Regions from separate parts of the Homo sapiens genome. Here region 1 is linked to region 2. Evidence: fine-mapped expression QTL. A gene starts in region 2. The other region holds a variant in brackets. All regions are shown on one strand. Distances are between the middles of the regions. Region 1 has its middle 13 kb from the start of TMEM174. Region 2 holds the start of TMEM171 (transmembrane protein 171).

Evidence for each region. PIP is the estimated chance that this variant, and not a neighbour inherited with it, causes the effect. A credible set is the group of variants that fine-mapping cannot tell apart.
Region 1: its variant is the best candidate, but not a certain one, in a credible set for the expression of TMEM171 in whole blood (INTERVAL, PIP 0.81).

Annotation. Positions count from the first base shown.
Region 1 is chr5:73,157,498-73,162,014 of GRCh38, reverse strand. No RefSeq gene overlaps it. Among named protein-coding and RNA genes, the nearest start is that of TMEM174, 13 kb to the left of the region's middle. The variant G/C (reference allele first, on the strand shown) is at 2,678.
Region 2 is chr5:73,118,724-73,122,939 of GRCh38, reverse strand. It overlaps TMEM171 (transmembrane protein 171), which reads right to left and starts at 2,365. Exons shown (of 4, transcript NM_173490.8): 1 at 2,244-2,365. It overlaps LOC124901001, which reads left to right and starts at 2,449. Exons shown (of 2, transcript XM_047417978.1): 1 at 2,449-4,216. The coding sequence starts at 2,511. The coding sequence ends at 3,212. RefSeq lists an enhancer at 2,975-3,526.

The DNA of each region.
Region 1 (4,517 bases), 39 kb before region 2:
CTCATGTCATCTTTCCCAAATTCATACAATTTTAGTTTTTAATATTTTGACAAGAATGAGTGATTCAATTATAGCTGGAAGTTTCTCAAACAAGCAATACAAAGATATCAAATAGATATCAAAGTTTAAGCTCATTTTCTTCTCCACAATAAAATCCATAATTTGAATAAGAATCTAGGGTAAACCATTTTTAAAACTTTATGAATGCATTGTTTTGGCAAGTCACTGGGAAAACAGCTTTAAATCTGAGTGGGGAAGAGTATAACTTGACACAACCTCTTTTTGGGGGGCTTGGCAATATTTACTAAAATTCAAAATGTACGTACAACAGAATTAAAGAAGCTACAAACATCTTCTAGGAATGTAACCTACATACTTACAATAGACACCTTACAAAAGGATACTTTAGCAGAATAGACAATGAATCACTATCTGTACTAACAAAGTACAGGGATGGGGAACCCTACATGTCCATCAGTAGTGGACTGGCTAAATAACTTATGGTGGTAAAATATAAGGTTCTCTTCCACTGTTAAAGAGCAAGTCAGCTGTACATACACAGGTATGGAATAATCTCTAAGATGTGTTATTGGTTGAAAAAGAAAGCAGAGTGAGTACTGTAGTGTGCTTATTATGCCATTATTTGCAAGGGGAAAGACATACACATCATTGAATGTCTGTGCATAAAATGTCATTGAAAGAATATGAAATAAATTTGACAGAAGAACTGAGAGGGTGTTCCAGTTATCTATTGCTATATAACAATCCACTCCCAATTTTGTGGCTTAAAACAGTTATGTGGCTTGGCTGAGTTTTGTCAGGCAGTCAGCAAGGGCTGCCAGAACCTAGAAGCTCACCTGAGTGGGACATCAAGATGGTTCACTCATGTGACTGACAGCTGATGCTAGGAGCTTCGCTGGCTCATCAACCAGAGCACTCACCTGTGTCTTTCCATGTGGTTTCTCCCGGCCAGGGGACTGGGTTTCAAGAGGAAGTGTCTTAGGAGCAAGTACTCCTGGGGTCCCAGGTGGAAGCTGTGAGGCGTCTTATGACCTGGCTTTGGCAGTCCCAGAATATCACTCTCATTTCATTCTATTGCTCAAGCAAGTCACTAAACCAACCCAGATACAAAGGGAAGGGAATTCGATTCTTCCTTTCTATAGTTGGAATGTCAAGGTCACATTGCAGAAGAACACTTGGGAGAGGAAATATTACCATCTTTCTCTTTGGAAAATACAATCTTCTGCAGAGGGAGATTTACTTTTCACTGTTCAGTCTGTGATACTGCTTGAATTTTCGTCCATGTGAACATCCAAATATAGTCCAAGATTTTAGATCAACCATGTTTATATACCCATTCACTTGTGGCTGGTTAGTAACCTCATCCTTCTTTACTGGCAAGTTTTCAGTGAGTCCTCAGGTGGTAACACTCTGTCACAATCAACAATAATGGCAGGTTCTGAATTTTTCTGAGTTTCTTACATATTTTCACTGCTTTTCAGACTTAGACATCAAGCTTCCTGTTTTTAACCACCAATCCACATTCCCCGTTAAAAATTGTAATTTTGAAATGATTATAGTTTAAAAAGATGAATAATGAATGACAGTATAACCACAAAAACAGAGTTTTCAGAGGTTATCAGAGACCTGCGGTGGGAAGTGAAACTAAGCGTGGTCATATAGTTCTGAACAAATCGTTTGATTGAACACATTGTGGTTGGAAGTAAATTGCTTTGTGGAAGCTGTGTGTGTGTGATTAAATGTCTTTTTTCAAAAGTTTGGTAGAGTGGCAAACCCATGTTTCAAAGATCTGTCTGCTTGTGCTGTGATCCTGCAGGGTAATCTATTGGCCATATTCACTTGGATCAGACTACAGACAGAACACTACCAGGTTCTCTGATAACAAAAAAGCCCCAAAATATTTCAACAACTTATAGCACATAAAAAGCAAAATAAAACAAAACAAAGCCACAAGCTTGGGTGACATGGAAAAACAGGAACCTGCATGTTTTACTTGCAAATACATGTCTCAAAACCCTTCAAGATTTCCAAAATTCAAAAGAATGTCTTCCTAAACATTTAGGTAAAAATGGCACCATGTGGCCTCCCCTACGCTGGTGCACCACAGGAGGTGGGGGTTCAGGAAAGAGGGGTTGGGGAGAAAAGAGAGAAGCCACAAGAAGGGACCTGGACATTCTTCTCTGCACTGTAGGACCCTGTCAGTGGCCACCACTACCTGGCAATCCTGAGATGATCAACAAAATCAGAAAAGGTCCGGATGACAAAATCAGACTCCAGAGGAAGGTGGTTCATGGGTCCACGTGGATGTGAGAGGAACACAGGGTCAGGATGCATAGTCTGCTGGGAAGCCTTCTGAGAAACCCAGGTGCTAGACCTGTCCTGGTGTCCAGCACAAGGCGGGAACATCCTCCATGATATTCCTCCAGTCTTTAGGGCTAGATCAGTGAAAGTAGGCAGATGTCATGGCAAGGGGTGACTACGGTCAGAAATGCACACCCTGCGCAGCTCTGTACCTTCAGAGGGCCACAGTTGCAGACCTGCAGGGAGTAGCAACGAGGATGGGGTGACCTATGCCACTTGGCCCCACCCCCTCAAGGACATGCGGCAAGAGGATCCTTGCACAGTAAGGACCTGGATGGAGCAGACGCGGAACCTC[G/C]ACCCTAAGAATAGATTCTCTACTTAAATGAGCATCAGGTGTCTATAAGTCATTTAGGGGGAATATTTGGGGGAAATCTCAATTATAGGAATTATCTACTCACCTGTTATATTTACTTGAATTGTGTTGGACCATGGCAGCCTCAAGGTTATATTCAACTTTTACAATAAAATGACAGGGTGGTTGAATCATGACTATACTATTATTAGCTACAGGATGGATCTTGTTGAAAATCAAAACTGTCCCCTCATTCTTCAGATTTTATTTTATTTCAAGAATAACAAGAGCCTGGGGGTGGTGGTTCACACCTGTGATCCCAATAATTTGGGAGGCTGAAGCAAGTGGATCGCTTGAGCCCAGGAGTTCAAGACCAGCCTGAGGACATGGCAAAACCCCACCTCTACAAAAAAAAATATATAAAAATTAGCCAGGCATGGTGGTGCAGCCTGTAGTCTCAGCTACTTGAGAGGTAAGGTGGAGAATCACTTGAGCCTGAGAGATCGAGGTGTCAATGAGCTATGATCATGCCACCACCCTCCAGCCTGGGTGACAGAGTGAGACCCTATCTCAAAAAAACAAAACAAAACAGTAACAAGAATATTGTAGGTGGCGGTGGCGATCATTGCTGTATGGAGTATGGATTCTGTGTCTTTACACCGTATTCTTGCTTGAACTTTCTGATATCCTGGTGAGAAGCAAGGCCTCTGTTTTACAGATGATTAATCTCAGAACAGGAAAGTAGGCTATTTGATTTAGTGGTAGTGCAGGAGGACAATCTGTTTTCCTAAAGTGTTTTTAAAATTGCTCATCCATGAAGGGCAGGCACTGGCAGGCAAGTGATCTGCCTGTGTTCTCGAGCGAGGCTGGTGTCTGCTGAGGTTGGTTGGGTAGGCAGTTTCCTGGGTGTCCTGATAATCTTTAGATTTTTTTCCCCAGCTGCGATGATTTGAATGTTTGTCTCCTCCAAAACTCATGTTGAGCTTTGATCCCTACTGTTGGAAATTGGCCTGATGGGAAGTGTTTGGGTCATGAGGGGATCCCTGATGAATAGAATAATGCCCTTTTTTGGGGGTGACTTCTCACCCTATTAGTTCCCTGTAAAGCTGGTTGTTAAAAGAGCCTGGTGCCTCCCCACTGTTTTTCTTGCTTCCCCTCCTGCCATGTGATCTCTGCACACATGAGCTCCCCGTCTTCCATCATGAGTGAGAGCAGCCTGAGGCCCTCACCAGAGGCAGATGCCCAGTCATCAAAATTATAAGCCAAATAAACTTCTCTTTATAAATGACTCAGCCTCATGTATTCCTTTATAGCAGCAGAAAATGCACTCAGACACCAACTGAACTGAAAACTACCTTGATGGGGCTGGAATTTAAGTCACAGCCACTGCCATTTCCAGCAAATGATAAGGTGAGCCTCCCAGAGGCCCAGCTCTTGGTGTGAGAAGCTTCTGGATGGAGTAGGTCTGCAGTGGGCTTGCTTCTGAGCTCAGGAATTTATGTACTTGTATGTTAGTTTCCACTTCAGAATAACCACACACTTAGAGGCTTAAAACTACATTCATTTATTCGTTCACGGTTCTGTAGGTCAGGCATCCCTCTGTATTATCTGGAGGCTCAGGAAATAATCTGTTCCCAAGCTCATTCAGGCTGTTGGCCGAATTTGGTCCTAAGCAACATAAGACTGAGGTTCCAATTCCCTGCCAGAAATTCCTTTCTGCTCCTAGAAGCCCCCCACATTCCTTCTCACTTGGGCCGCTCCATCTTCAAAACAGCAATAGTGCTGCAAGACTAGCCAAGCTCTTGAGCTTCAAGTCTCTCTGATTTCCCCCTTTCTGCCCTAC
Region 2 (4,216 bases):
CTTTCTGATTGCAAATGCCCCACTTTTCATCATAGCTGCTCTCAGCATTTTCAAGTCAGTTCAGTAACTAACTTTCCATTTCCTGTTTTAGACTACAGCAGCTTTCCATTTCATGTTTTATTCTAAGGCTACATCTACAAAAGACCCAATTTCAGCAATTTCAATAGAATAAGAAGTCTGTTCAGGAACACAGTGGGTTTGGTGGACTTTTAAGTTGATTCTATCAAAATGTGGTTCTTGAGGCCAGGCGTGGTGGCTTGCGCCTGTAATCCCAGCACTTTGGGAGGCAGAGGCAGGCAGATTGCTTGAGCTCAGGAGTTCGAGACCAGCCTGGGTGACATAGCAAAACCCCATCTCTGCTAAAAATACAAACTTTAGCCAGGCATGGTGCCTGTGGTCCCAGCTACTTGGTAGGCTGAGGTGGGAGGATTGCTTGAGCCCAGGAGCTGGAGGTTGCAGTGAGCCAAGATCACGCCACTACTCTCCAGCCTGGGCAACAGAGTGAGACCCTGCCAAAAACAAAACAAAACAAAACAAAATGGTTCTTGGGTTCTCAACAAGCACAGACTGGTGACCCAGTTGCTTGGATCTGGGATGACCCTGGAAAGTGTTGCACAGCAGGTCAACAGGAGCTCAATTTTCAGAGTGGACAGGTACCCAAAGGCTGGTGTGGCCTCTCACTCACCCTCCTCCATGGTGTCACCTACTTCCACAAAGAGGTTGAGACTCAGTTAAAAAACAAGCAGCCAATAAAACTGCTAGTTATAAAGCACAAAATGGGTGGAAGGGGGGAACTTGGCTTTGAAAGAATAGTATAAGTGGAATCAAGTGAGAAAGCACCTTCCAGAAAATCACCCAAGCCCTGTACTTCAGGGGTATAATATATTAAATATGCCAAGTGGTTGTTAAAGAGTTGTCTAGCTTACACAGAGCTGACCTAATTATCTCGTTATCTTATTTTACTCCAATGAATGGGATATTTTACCAGGACCCCGTAAGTCAGGTCCTGCAATTGCAAAGACAATCCAAAATCGTGAAGACTATTTTCACCTGCCCAAGGAAAGAAAACTTTTAAAATATTTTGTGCCGCTCACATCCATGGTCCCATGAAGGAACTCAAGACTGAGGCCCTAAGCCCAAGATGATCTTGACAAACCAAAATCACACTGAGGGAAGGTCAGTTTAGGTAAAGAAAGCAAACAGGCAATCTTACACTGGGAAAAACTTTTCCAGGAAAAAGTATGATAGAATCAGAAGGAAGTTGGAGAAAAAAAGGAAATATAGGAGGGAAAAAAGCTTTCATTTCAAACTTGGAAAAACTTGATATACAGATGCAGTTAAGCTGAGACAAAGCATTGCACTAATTTTTTAATCTTCCCATTTTTTATTAAGTCAGTAACATCCTGCAGTGAATAAGAATTTCATATTGAGTATACAGTAGTCCTCATTTATCCTACAGGGAGTACATTCCAAAACTCTCAGTGGAATGAAACGATGGAGAGTCCTGAAACCTATATATATTGGTTTTTTGTTATTGTTGTTGTTTTAATTTTTTTCCTGAATCATGCAATCTCTTTTGCGGTTTCGGAGACAAGAAAGAGAAGGGTGATTCTCGGCTGCAAAGTCCTATCAGGAATTCATTTATTCCCAGTATAGTCAACTTTGCAGTGAGTCACAAGGCTTCAACTGTCTTAAGGCAAATTCCCAAACACCAGTAAATAGAAGCCCAAAACTGAATCTGTAGTTTCTTGTCCGTGGACTAGTGGACGGAGCACCTGGCTGAGTGTTCACCTCTGATCCATAATAGTGTGGAAATACTCTCTCTCTCTCCTTCTCCCACAGATGCACTCACAAACGGATACAAAGACACCCACATTCACTCGCAATGAAACCTTTTCCAAACACCACCCTACACTTAAACTCCCCAAAGCCAAACTCCCCTCTCCAACACTCCTATTGGTTTTCCAAAAGACATTTCCAAAATTCACAGCACCTCTCCACGTCCAAAGCTATGGTGCGTTTGGGGAACGAAACGAGAGGCAAATGCCTTCTGTGCGAAATCGGTTTGCGGCTTTTAGGGAGCCCGAGCGCAAGCAACAGCCGGAGGGGCTCGCAGGGACGCAGGTTGGGCTCGGATACCCAGCGCCTCCGCGCTGCCGCGGCTCCCCGCGCCCAGCCTGGCCGCACAGCTCAGCGCCCGACCCGCCGCCGCCGGCGCAGGCGCGCGGGCCGGGGCAGCTTACCTGAAGCTGGGTCCGGCGCCTGGCTGACCGCGCTGCTGTGGGCACTGGCTGGGCGCGGCGTCCGCCTCCGCACGCGGCCTCGGCTGCGCCGGCCGCCCTGCACCCTACCCACCGCGCGTCCTGGTGCGGAGGGCGGACCCGGCAGTATTTAGAGAAGGAGGCGGTGCTGCGCGGGCGCGGCGGCCCGGGGAGGGCAGGGCAGGGCAGTGCAGGAGCGACCGGTGGGAGCTGGCCGCCACTGGGGGCCCGGGGCGCGCCCGCGAGGGAATGGAGAGCCAGGGGCGGCTTCGGAACCCAGGGCTGGCGGGTTTGGCAGCCTCCGCGCTCGTGGCCGTGCGCGCGAGGAATCTGGGAGAAATGGGCACCTTCCACGGCTGCCTGGCCCGCACACCTGGCGGGGCCGGCGAGTTGAGATGCCCCCGCCGGCTGGCGGAACTGTGCGCCCCGCCCGCCGAGGCCCGCTCCCCCTCGAGGCCTGAGGCCCAGTTCTATAGGGGCGCGAGAGAGCGGCGGCGTGGGGGGCGCGGAGGAAGCGCCGGCCCCCGCCTCCACCGCCTCCTTCGTGGTTGCGGCCCAGGCCGAACAGGGTACCGTGCCCCGGCCGCCTTGGCCTTGGCCACCGCGAGGTCCGGGGCGACTACACCCAGCAGCCCTGTGGCCCTCCTACTGCTCTGGAGACCTGGAGTGGGGTTACAGAGGGAAGCGACTCGCTGCGAGCTCCCCATCGAATATGGAGCCACCAGGTCACGGGACGACGTGCGCTCTACAGAATGTGAGACAAGGGCCCTCCACACCCAGCCATTCAGGCCTGAGGTCCTGGCTCCGAGACTGAGGCCGAGACGCGGCAAGCCCCGCGCCGGACCAGCTCTGCCCCTCCCGCACCCACGTGTCTGCGCACAGCCCTCCTTTGCGATAGAACCCCCTTCCTGGTTCTCCACCACTAATGATCTGCCGGAATTAAACTGGTAACTTTCCCTGCCCTTGAACCGGGAGTTTCGGGATGAGTTTGCCAATCCCTGTGCTATTTGTAACCAGCCCCGTGACACGTGATACGGATCCAACTGTGCTAGTTTCCACACCAGGGGTCAGGGCACGGTGGAAGGTGAGTCAAGGGTTCTCTGCCCAAGCGCAGAGGTGCCCTGAGCCACGGGGACTTCCCAGCCCTGCCTTCTCTTCTCAGCTTCCTGTCTGCCTTGCCTGAAACCCTATCTAGAGTTAAGGCCAATGGATGAAACTTTTCAATGTGCAAGCAAGCACTTTACCTACCTGATACAACAAGAGATTCCTGGTCATGCTCACTGAAGGTAAAGTATGAAGCAGGCTTAGCTAATCATCAGAGGTGAGAAGAGACTTAAAGAACCAGTCAGAGAGGTAAAGAGGGGAGGGGGTTACCTGGGCTTTAGGGTTCACCAGGGAGGCAGAACGGACAAGTTCTTGCCATTGGAATTTGGTGGGGCACTTGCCTGGGTGGCCAAAGGTGGACTTTTTCATAGCCAGGGTGCCCGACCTCTGTAAATCCCCGCCATAACTAACAGCCCTGATTACTGTCGAAATGAACAATGCCAACACTCACGACCCCTTGCTTTGTGGTTCTTTGCTACATCTCTCCAGCAGTTCAGAAAAGGTTGGAGGCAGCAGGGGACAGGAGACTGAGAAAAACAGTCATTTGTCAGTTGAGGAAACTGAGGTCCAGGCTGACAGAGGTAAAGTAACCTCTGCAGCTGGTTGACATGCAGAGAAGGCCTGAGCCAGATGCAGATGCGCTGACCATTCAGTGTTTCTCCCGCAGCACACCTGTCACTCAGAGAACACACCATGCTGTGAACCCAGAAAACGCCCTCATGGCCTTGTGATGCCAAGCACGTTTAGATTATTATAACAATACAGGCACTGTGTCCCAAGGACATTGCAGTAATCTATGTTTGGGGTGGAGATATCCTTCCTGGTCCAAGTGTCAAGGTATACCACCTTCT